4 separate regions of the Homo sapiens genome follow, and all the other regions are linked to region 4. The links come from fine-mapping of genetic effects on gene expression. A gene starts in region 4. Each other region holds a variant in brackets. All regions are shown on one strand. Distances are from middle to middle. Region 1 overlaps SNHG31 (small nucleolar RNA host gene 31). Region 2 overlaps BARD1 (BRCA1 associated RING domain 1). Region 3 overlaps BARD1 (BRCA1 associated RING domain 1). Region 4 holds the start of BARD1 (BRCA1 associated RING domain 1).

Evidence for each region.
Region 1: its variant is fine-mapped to the expression of BARD1 in naive CD8 T cells (Schmiedel 2018, PIP 0.91).
Region 2: its variant is fine-mapped to the expression of BARD1 in B cells (Fairfax 2012, PIP 0.95).
Region 3: its variant is fine-mapped to the expression of BARD1 in monocytes (BLUEPRINT, PIP 0.95). The same link has a PIP of 0.9 or more in monocytes after interferon gamma.

Annotation. Positions count from the first base shown.
Region 1 is chr2:214,892,654-214,895,417 of GRCh38, forward strand. All of the region lies in intron 2 of SNHG31 (small nucleolar RNA host gene 31), which reads left to right. Among named protein-coding and RNA genes, the nearest start is that of SNORA70I, 47 kb to the left of the region's middle. The variant G/GA (reference allele first, on the strand shown) is at 1,098.
Region 2 is chr2:214,769,004-214,771,503 of GRCh38, forward strand. BARD1 (BRCA1 associated RING domain 1) reads right to left here. Exons shown (of 11, transcript NM_000465.4): 5 at 229-309. Among named protein-coding and RNA genes, the nearest start is that of BARD1, 39 kb to the right of the region's middle. The variant A/C (reference allele first, on the strand shown) is at 1,266.
Region 3 is chr2:214,756,591-214,759,090 of GRCh38, forward strand. The region is part of intron 6 of BARD1 (BRCA1 associated RING domain 1); the gene reads right to left. Among named protein-coding and RNA genes, the nearest start is that of BARD1, 52 kb to the right of the region's middle. The variant C/CA (reference allele first, on the strand shown) is at 1,343.
Region 4 is chr2:214,808,123-214,810,873 of GRCh38, forward strand. BARD1 (BRCA1 associated RING domain 1) reads right to left here and starts at 1,561. Exons shown (of 11, transcript NM_000465.4): 1 at 1,290-1,561. The coding sequence starts at 1,447. It overlaps SNHG31 (small nucleolar RNA host gene 31), which reads left to right and starts at 2,107. Exons shown (of 4, transcript NR_110292.1): 1 at 2,107-2,310. RefSeq lists enhancers at 500-549, 840-919 and a silencer at 1,470-2,039.

The DNA.
Region 1 (2,764 bases), 85 kb after region 4:
TCAACATCCTTAAATTAAAAGAGCAGAAGAAAAAAAAATGAATGTCCACTGAACAAACACAACATCAAAAGAAAGTGTGGGACTATTTTGTGAACAACTAAACACCTCAAGAATAGTGGTAATAGTAATGCACGTTTATCAGGCACTCTTCTAAATCTTTTACATGTATGAACTCATTTCATCCTCACAACAGCTTGGTGAGGCAGTACTATTATTATTCTCATTTTGTGGATGAGGACACCAGAGTGCAAGTAACGAGTCTAGGTACACTTAGTAGAGTTAGGGGGAGGGCTAAATTTTAAACCTGGCCATCTTGCCCCAGAATTCACACTCTTACCCATTTTTTCTGAGGCCCCTGTAGATGTCAGTGCATCCTAGCCCAGTATAATAACCCAAGCTTACAATGATGGTCCTGAGTCACCAAGAAGATACAATTCTGTTCCAGAGGGCAGAAAGAATTCTCTCAAAACCTAATGGGGTGGTTGGGGGGAGAGCATCAGGAAGAATAGCTAAGGGATGCTGGGCTTCATAACTAGGTGATGGGTTGATCTGTGCACCAAACCACCATGGCACACTTTCACCTATGCAACAAACTTGCACATCCTGCACATGTACCCTGAACATAGAATAAAAGCTGAAGAAAAATAAATTATTAAAAAATAATGTCACTTTAAGGGGCCAGCTATTGTTATCTGGAAAATTCACTTATATGGGGCACTCTAAACAGTGTTGTTACTCTTTTATGGCCATTCACTTTTTCATGATGTTTACTGAATACCTGAGTCATACCACATCTTTAATTTAGACCTAAATTTTTATAAGCTATGGGTACATACACTAATATATGAGGGGGCTTGTTCATGGAAAAATGGAATTAAAAGTTCATGGAAAATCGAATTAAAAGATAAAAACAAAAAAAAAAGACTTTATTTCTCAACTTGGGCTTCATCAAGTTCAAGACACCTTTCTAAGCAGTATCAGCCATTTAGTCCATCCCTAAAGAACTGAGGGTCCTGGGAATTTAACCATGTCAGTGCAGTCTTTTTTATATTACTCACAAAAGAAAGGGTGTCTTCTAAAGATTTTCTAAGATAAAG[G/GA]AAAAAAAAAAAATCAGAAGGAGCCAAATCAATACTGTAAGTTTAGTTGTCTGATGATTTGCTATATAAACTCTCACAAAATTGCCCTCATTTGATGAGGGAAACAAGCAGGAGCATTGTTGTGGTGGACAAGGACTCCTTGGTGAAGCTTTCCTGGGTGTTTTCTGCTAAATCTTTAGCTAACTTTCTCAAAATACTCTCATAATAAGCAGATCTTTTCATCCATTGGCCCTCCAGAAAGTCAACAAGCCAAATAACTTAAGCATCCCAAAAAACTCTTGGCATGACATTTGCCCTTGACCAGGCTATTTCTACTTTGACTGGACCACTTCCACCTCTTGGTAGCCTTGTGTTGATTGTGCTTTGTCTTCAGGATCATCCTGGTAAAGTCATATTTCATCACCTGTTCCAATTCTTCAAAGACATGCTTCAGGGTATACATATATCTGTTTGTCTGCCAAGGTGAAAGAATGCTTCAGGATCTTGATCCCACTTGTTTAATATTTCCATTGAAAGTTCTTTCTGCACCTGATCTGGACACAATGCTTTTGGCACTCATTGAATGGAAAGTTTGCTCAAGTTTAATTTTTTAGTCAGAATTGTGTGAGCTGAAGCAACTGAGATGTCTATGGTGTTGGTTATTCTTTCTGCTGTTAATCATCAGTCCTCTTCAATTAGGGAACAAATGATTAATTTTTCCTCATGAAATGATGTGATGGTCTGCTGCTGTGGGCTTCATCTTCAATGTCATCTCATTTTTTTTTTTTTTTTTTTTTTTTTGTGACAGACTGTCACTCTGACACCCAGGCTGGAGTACAGTGGTATGATCTTGGCTCACTGCATCCTCTGCCTGCTGGGTTCAAGCAATTCTCCTGCTTCAGCCTCCAGAGTAGCTGGGACTACAGGTGTGCACCACCATGCCCGGCTAATTTTTGTATTTATAGTAGAGATGGGATTTCCCCATGTTGGCCAGGCTGGTCTTGAACTCCTGACTTCAGGTGAGCTGCCCGCCTTAGCCTCCCAAAGTGCTGGGATTGCAAGCATGAGTTACCATGCCCAGCCAGAGTTTTTTTTATCATTTGCATTGTCCATGAATTTTTTGAAGACCCCCTTTCTATTTCTGGATTATGCCAGCAACAATTTTATGTATGGCTTAGCACATTTTGATGCTATGTAATTTTTGTATTACACAGCCTTTTAAAGTTTTTGATCAAGAATAATCAAAGTGGTATATATTAGATCCACATTTACAGCCCCAAACTGAAAACGAATTAACATTTTCCCCTGTAACACATCCGTAGAATTAACATGATAACTATCAATTCTATTTTTCTGAAAGTTTGGCCAGGTGATTAAAATAAACTTTGTTTTTCCATTATATTTTTCAAATAAAGGAATTTCAATTACCTCACAATTAAGGCACAGTTAGTTTGTCACAGGTCATGACTTAATTGCCTCAATCTGGAATTTCCAGCCAAATTATCTCATTAGCATTCAGAGCCTTTAGGCCACTGAAAGTCTAACTAAACAAAACATGGTGTCATAAATTTTTGTCTGAGAAAGGGCAGTTAGGGGTATTAAAAACACATACAAATAGAAAAGAAACCATCCAGGACATTTAACCATTTCTTCCTAAGAAATTCCCAAGATTGACGATGTTTGAAAAG
Region 2 (2,500 bases), 39 kb before region 4:
TGGATTCCTAAATCTAAAGGTAGTCTGTCAAAAGGTAACCAATTTCTTGCCTGTCACAAATGAAAAGCTAGAAGGAAAGTAATCATGTTCTCATACTTGATGAAAACATAAGTTCTTCAGACTAAAAAGAGTATATGTGGCAGAGGATGATATATAGACAACTACATAACTATAAACTATAAGAACTGTAAAACACAGAAAGAATGAGAATAAAAACCAGACAACTACCAATGGTGTCCATCCAGCATGGTCTTTAACATTTGGATCACTTCCATTTTGTAAAAGGTATTCAACAGAAGGTATGTCGCCCTAGAAAAATGAACAAAACGGAAATTAAAAAGCATTAAGGAAAGAAAGGAAAATATTGAGCTTTTTTAAATGCTGCCTTCTTCAATATAAAGTAAAACTTAAATCGTTTTCTCTTAAGGCTACTGTTCATGAGTTAATAAATTATTAGGCCGGGTGTGGTGGCTCACGCCTGTAATCCCAACACTTTGAGAGGCCAAGGTGGGTGGATCACCTGAGGTCAGGAGTTTGAGACCAGCCTGGTCAACATGGTGAAACCCCGTCTCTACTAAAAATACAAAACTAGTCGGGCATGGTGGTGCCAGCCTGTAATCCCAGCTACTTGGGAGGCTGAGGCAGGAGAATCACTTGAGCCCAGGAGGCAGAGGTTGCAGTGAGCCAAGATCATGTCACTGCACTCCAGCCTGGGCCACAGAGCAAGACTCCGTCTCAAAAAAACAAAACAAAAAAGAAATTGTCTGCGTATAAATTATTCTGAGATATCAAGAAGTACAGTCATGCTTGAATATAGACTACAAAATCTATTAGAAAGCCATATTCAAAATTCATTTCAGGTACCAAATAAAGGACACTGGCCAAAGATCATGTGCTCACAATGAAGTTTTAAAAGCCATAATTTCACTTGTGAAAAAAACAATTTTTGAGCATTTGTAAATGGCTTCTGAGTATTGTTTAAAACAACCAAAACTGTTTAGCCCAGAAGACTACTCAGTGAAACCAAAGTTAAAAAACAGCCAAAAACTGCCATTTTATTGGCAGTTACTCCATCCTAATACATTTAGTTTATATTCACCTTATTTGTTCAACATTTTCTAGGAAGCAACAGTTGCTCTGTTTAAAATGGCAAAAAAAGAGATCAGTACAAACCTATTCAAATCAGCCCACAGAATTAGCATTAAATTTTTTATCCCCCTGCTCCCCGCCCAGTTCAAGACTAAAATCACCACCCATTATCAACT[A/C]ATTCAACTATACGAAATAGAGCTTCTGTAATGTAGCCTTACAAGTCTTTTCTAACAAGTGGTTTTCAATTTCTCTATTTCTCTATTCCAGTACTCTGGAGAGCTATGCAACAATGTTATAACAGTAGCAACAGTAGCACACTGATGCAATGGAGAAGGCAGATGAGGAATAGTAAGAAATACAATAACTTTACTTTAGAAATCACAACCTCTTTTTAAATCAGATGAGCAAGATCCGGGGAATAAGTGAATTAAAATGAGGCACAAGGCAAGGAAAATACTCTGAAGGCAGACAATATTAATTCGACTTTCATATTAAGACACCGTCAATTATTAAATAGCATTAAAATTGAAGACCCCTTCCAGTTTTGAACTTTCTGTGTCTTGTGTGTCATGATCCAACTAAATCCTACTATAAATGAGTAGACTTTTAAGGTCACTTTAAAGCTGTCTTGAAGTAAGACAAAAAAAATAGCTTCCCTCTGCTGCCAGCCTCCAGCGAAGGTAGACTGTGGCAAAGGAGTTCTGGGGAACTGGTCTCAGGTAGTCTGCCCTCCCACTCTTCTTTTTTATTTTCCTAGAAGTGAGAGATAATAATCCTCCAGCTATCTAATACCAGGGTCTCTTAAATTTGGCCCTTCATGTAATGTGGAAAGATCTGACATCTATCATTTATATTTAATTACATATTACGTTTTAAGTATCCGTTAACTCTTAAAGCCTTTTTAAAAATCTCTAGCTGTAATATAAAGGATACTGTCCCTTTGTAAAACAATGTCAGGCTTTAGGAAGAAGGAGGCATTTATGCAGCGGGATGAAGGTAAAAATTTTCTTGAAATTACATTATTATCACCACTCACTGCAAATATAACTAATCAGTTCTTTTAGGATAACAGGGCAGGGTACAGTACCTAAGTCCATGACGATAAAGCAAAAATATCTAGCAGAGCATACTCTCAAAAAAGACCAAATAAAAAGCTATAGACAGAAGTTACATGCATAACATTGTGTTCAATGAGTTTCGTGAGTGCTTCTTTAGTGAATAAATCTCTCCCCACCCAACCCCTCTCCCAATACTTTTTTCTGAAATTTTTTTCCTCTGTTGGTTTGATAATGTAGAAATCACTAATTCTCCTAAATATAATATTTGATTTTTTTTTCTTTTTAAAAAATTTTGCTGGCCAGACGTGGTGGCTCACACCTGTAATCCCAGCACTTTGGGAGGCTGAGGCAGG
Region 3 (2,500 bases), 52 kb before region 4:
ATCAATGAGTGGATAAAGAAACTGTGGTGTATATATACAATAGAATACCACTCAGCCATAAAAATGAATGAACTAATGGCATTCACAGCAACCTGGATGGGACTGGAGACTATTATTCTAGGTGACGTAACTCAGGAGGGAAAATCAAACATTGTATGTTCTCATTCATAAGTGGAAGCTAAGCTATGGGGATGCAAAGGCATAAGAATGACACAACAGACTTCACGGACTCAAGGGGAAAAGGTGGGAAGGTGGTGAAGGATAAAAGACTACAAACTGGGTTCAGTGTGTACTGCTCGGGTGATGGGTACACCACAATCTCACAAATCACCACTAAAAAACTTACTTGTGTAACCAAATACCACTTGTTCCCAAAAACCTATGGAAATAAAAAAATTATAATAAATAAATAAATTAAAAGGCTGCAGCACCTCCTCGCCTCTTCCTCCTGCTCTGACCACGTAAGATGTGCCTGCTTCCCCTTCATCTCCCACCATGACTGTAAGTTTCCTGAGGCCCTTCCTGTATAGCCTGGGGAGCCATGAGCCAATTAAACCTCTTTTCCTTATAAATTACCCAGTCTCAGGTGTTTCACAGCAGTATGAAAAGGGACTAATACATATACTGAATCCTAAAAATTCAAAGGCTCTAATTTTTTTTCTGTTCCTTGACAACACAGTACACTGGCAGATTTCACCAGTTTTTTTTTTTTCTAATGTACTCTTGCGCTATTCCTTTACCTATGATTTTAAATCATAATGTGGAAAATATGCTTTATAAAATCTTTAAAGATATGACTGGAGATTTTACATTTTAAAATCTTGAACAGACAATCCAGGTGTTCATGTGTCATTGCTTTTTGCTATCTAAAATGTAGTATGAAATACTGGATGATTTGTTACTGATGTTGATAGAACCTATGTGAAAATGGATATATGTATTAATATACATAATGCATGATATATATATTGCATATATCAGAAGTAGCAATAATCGTTTATTTATTTAACACACATGGAATGAATATATTTGTATAAACAAGTAGGGGGAAAAGTCACAAACTCTGTTTTGCAATTAGTTTGGAAAATAGTCATCATTCAGCAAATACTTTGAAAAAAATGTACCAACAACTTTTGGCACTATAGAAACAATGTCCTCACAGAACTCAGAGGAGGAAAGCAGAGAGGCACACAGAAAAGGTTTTGCAGTCTGGTAAAGCTCCCCAGACCTGAAAGGGTAAGGAAGAAAAGCGGGTACACAAACAGAATAAGAATATCCTAGCAGACAGAAAAGTGTGTGAAGGACTTTAAGTGAGATAGCACTTAGAACTTTTTAGAACCAC[C/CA]AAAAAAAAGGAAAAAAGGGGGTAAAGGGAGAGTGAGAGAAAGAGAGGGAATGTACCACAGGAATATGAGGTACTCTCGAACTGTAAGCTATGGTCAGATTATATAAGAACAAAGAGGAGGTGTTAAAGAGTTGGACTTCCTCCCAAAGGCAATAAGAAACCCTGAACAGCTTCCTAAATCATTGTAAGCAGGAGGGATGGCATCAACGTAGCATGGTAGTTAAGAGTTGGGGTTACCGAATAAGACTGCCTGAACTTACATTTCAGCCCTGCCACTCAAAAGTCTTATGACTTTACACGAATTACTTAAATCCCGTGCCTGTTTCCTCATTTATAAGATGGAAATAATAACACTATCTATTTTACAGGATTGTTGCCAGAATCAAATGAATACATCAAAAGCATTTAAAACAGTACCTAGCATATATGAACAGCTCAATAACTGCCATTATATTACTGTATTGGATTTGCATTTTTGGAAGACAGATACAGAATGAAGATAAGGGCACAAAATAAGTTATGTCTGGAGCATTAACCTCATATCTTCATTTTCCCCAATTTTATGATACAATTGATGCATGTTTTTCATGATAATCTGGAAGTTTACTAAGGGAAAGTATAGAATTATGTCTTCTTAACAACATTCTAAGAGTAGATTTTCATTTTCCCATGTGGCACTATCTAAAGAGTATGAACCACATAACTCTGAAAATCCTTTTCCTAACTAGGAATCCTTCTGATCCTGAAGATGAGGAAAAGGAAGTACTTATGAAAGGGCTAAACTGTGGTGTTCAATGTTTCAGTTTTGTCCCAAAGGCCACATTCAGGATGCAGTATAACCTTTTAATATCCTTTTCCCCTCAGTAATAATATGGCAGACACCTGCCTACAATGGTGATCTGAATTCATTACACCACTAATAAAAGAGAGAAAGGAGAGATGGGCAAATTTAAACTTGTACTTGCATGTACAGACCATCCAAACTGCAAAAACATATGCAAAAAGGCATTTTTACTAATACTAAATCTATCACGCATGACAGGATACCAAGAGAGTTCATGAATGAAACCCTTCATGAATAACTACAAAACTGCAAACATATAGATTTAATTTTTCAAGTCACTTTGCTTGCTATGGAGCAGGATAAAGCAGAGTAAT
Region 4 (2,751 bases):
AGTTTGGCCGGGCACCGTGGCTCACGCCTGTAATCCCAGCACTTTGGGAGGCAGAGGCGGGCGGATCACGAGGTCAGGAGACGGAGACCATCCTGGCTAACACGGTGAAACCCCATCTGTACTAAAAATACAAAAAATTAGCCGGGCATGATGGCGGGCGCCTGCAGTCCCAGCTACTTGGGAGGCTGAAGCAGGAGAATGGCGTGAACCCGGGAGGCGGAGCTTGCAGTGAGACAAGATCGTGCCACTGCACTCCAGCCTGGGCGACAGAGCGAGACTCCGTCTCAAAAAAGGAAAGAAAAGAAAAAGTTGTGTTACTTATACTTTATGCAACTAGGTAACTTAAGTTCTGCAAGTTAGAAATCAAAGGGGAAAAAAGTCCAAAAAGGATATAAACTTTTGACAGCTACAAATAACAAAAAAACTGCCAGTGATCTTCATACAGAAATACTTAGCTGTACACACAGCAAGTGCTCAATAAAAATGCTTTTCAGAAGAAATGAAAATGAGACAAACCTTTCTTGGGTTTTACAAACCTTCTTGGTTTGTATACTAGAAAGAGCTACACGAAAAAAAGCAAGAAGTAACACTCATGAAAATGTCTTTGGACGGAATGAAAACCCTGAGAGGACTCCCATAATGTGACAGCATGAAGGAAAACAATAAACAGCATCACTAAGAGCGGGGACACCAGACATACAGTCTTTTGAGCAAACTAAGAAAATGAGAAATTCCGTGCCATCTTCAATCTACAACTATGGTAGATATCCGATGCTCCATCCCATCTCACTCGAAAAAGCTGGCACGGAGAAAATGTCAAAAAGGCCAGTTTAACTTAGAGTGGCAGCTGCTTCTAATTTAGAGGGTCTCCGGGGCGGCCCGCCAGCCCAATTCGCCACAGCTCCCGGAAAGCAGCGGGGTAATCCAGGGCCGGGTAAAAAATGCAGAAGCCTCAGCCCCACCCCAGCCCGATTCAAACTCTGGAGGCGCGACCGGGATGAACATTTTTTTAGCCACACCTCCAGACGGTTCTTCAGCCCGCTGAAGTTCAAAAACTACCGTTTCAGTTGGATTCAGGGCAAGGGGAGGCCGGTAAGTCGCCCAAAAATAAAGTGAATGAGAAGCAGAAGTTGTTAATACTATATCCCCCGGCAGGTGCTAACCGCACGCCGACCCGACTGCAGCGCGGGAACGGAAGGAGGAAACGGAAGATTTGAAAAGATTCTGCCGCCCCCAGAAACTGTGCGACCCGTGCCCTCGCAGCCACCCCCAAGAAGCTCCGTCTTTACCAACGCGAGCAGCGCAGCAGCTTCTCCAGGCGGTCGAGCGCGGCGCGACTGTGGGCCCAGGCACCGCGACCATCCGGTTCCATGGCGGGCGCGGAACGAGGCTCGTTCCCGGAGCGGATCCTCGGCTGCCGGTTCCTCGGCTGCCGATTATCCGGCATCGTCCCGCCTTCGGATGAAAGGCTCCTCGCAGAGCGGGAAGCAAGGAAGCCTCGGGAAACCACAGGGAAGCTGCAGGCCAGCGACTCGAAACCGGCCAAGCTCTTCCCGCGTCTGGGACGGCGGGCCGCCAGAGGGGCGGGGCGCGCGGGGAGGGGCGGGGCACGGCGGCCGCAATGCTCCCAAAATAGGGACTCGCAGGGCACAGGGGCGGGGCCGCGAGAGCCAGCCGCTGGCCGAGTGGGCGGGACCTAGGGGTGGGGCTGGAGGCTGAAACTTGCCAAAGTCCCGGCGTGTGGGACTTAGGGGAGGGGCCGCGAGAGCCGTGGGACCGAGGGGGCGGGGCCGGACGGCTGAAACTTGCCAAAGTCCCGGCGCGCGGGTCCTAGGGGCGGAGCCGCGAGAACACGCCGGGGACAGAGGGGGCGGGGCCTAGGAGCCTCGGGGCGGGACAGGACGGTCGAAACCGAAGTCCTGGCGCGCGGGGCCCAGGGGCGGGGCCTAGGGGCCTCGGGGCAGGACAGGACGGCTGAAACCGAGGTCCCGGCGCGCGGGGCCCAGGCGCCGTGCAGTGAGAGCACGCCGCTTGACCGAAGGGGCGGGGCCTGAAGGCTGAGCGCAGTCGCGAGGCTGTAGTTGGCAGGAGAGCGGGCGGGGCCTGAAGCCCCTCTGGGCTGCCTGGACGGATGAAGTCCAGGTGGAAAGCCAGTCGACGTTTCCCGGGAGCTACGACTCCAGGGACCCTCATCCGAGCTTAACCGTTGGAACAATCACAAACCCAGAAACTTTTAGCTGAGTGTTATTTATAAAAAGCGCTGTTTTGACTGCTGTTGGACTTGGAAAAGCTTTGCCCACGATACTGAAGGTACCACTCTTTGTTCCTAAGAAAGCAACCTTTTCTTTCCTCTCACCTCAGCTGTGGCGTATATTGTAACTGAGTAAAAATAAGGAAAGTTTCTAATTCTAACTAGTTAACAAATATCAGCTCAAAGGCATGTCTGAAAAGATCTGGTTTACTTTTAAAATATTGGTATAAAATTTCAAAAAGGGTTTTTTTTGTTAGAGAGTGTGTCCACCTTCCTCCTCCAGATCTTTCACTGATCGCCGTAATTTACAGATAAGACCTACAGAGCAACCCGTCATGCCTTCCTGCCGCGCCCCAAGTTCATTTCCAAGTCCTTGCATTTTTTCCCCCTAACTTGTCTCGAATGCACCCATTTTCTCTCCGTCTCTGCTCCACAACATCCCCAGTTGCCTCGTCCTCGCCTGGTTTCCTGTCGTAGCTTTCTAGCTGATATCCAAGTGT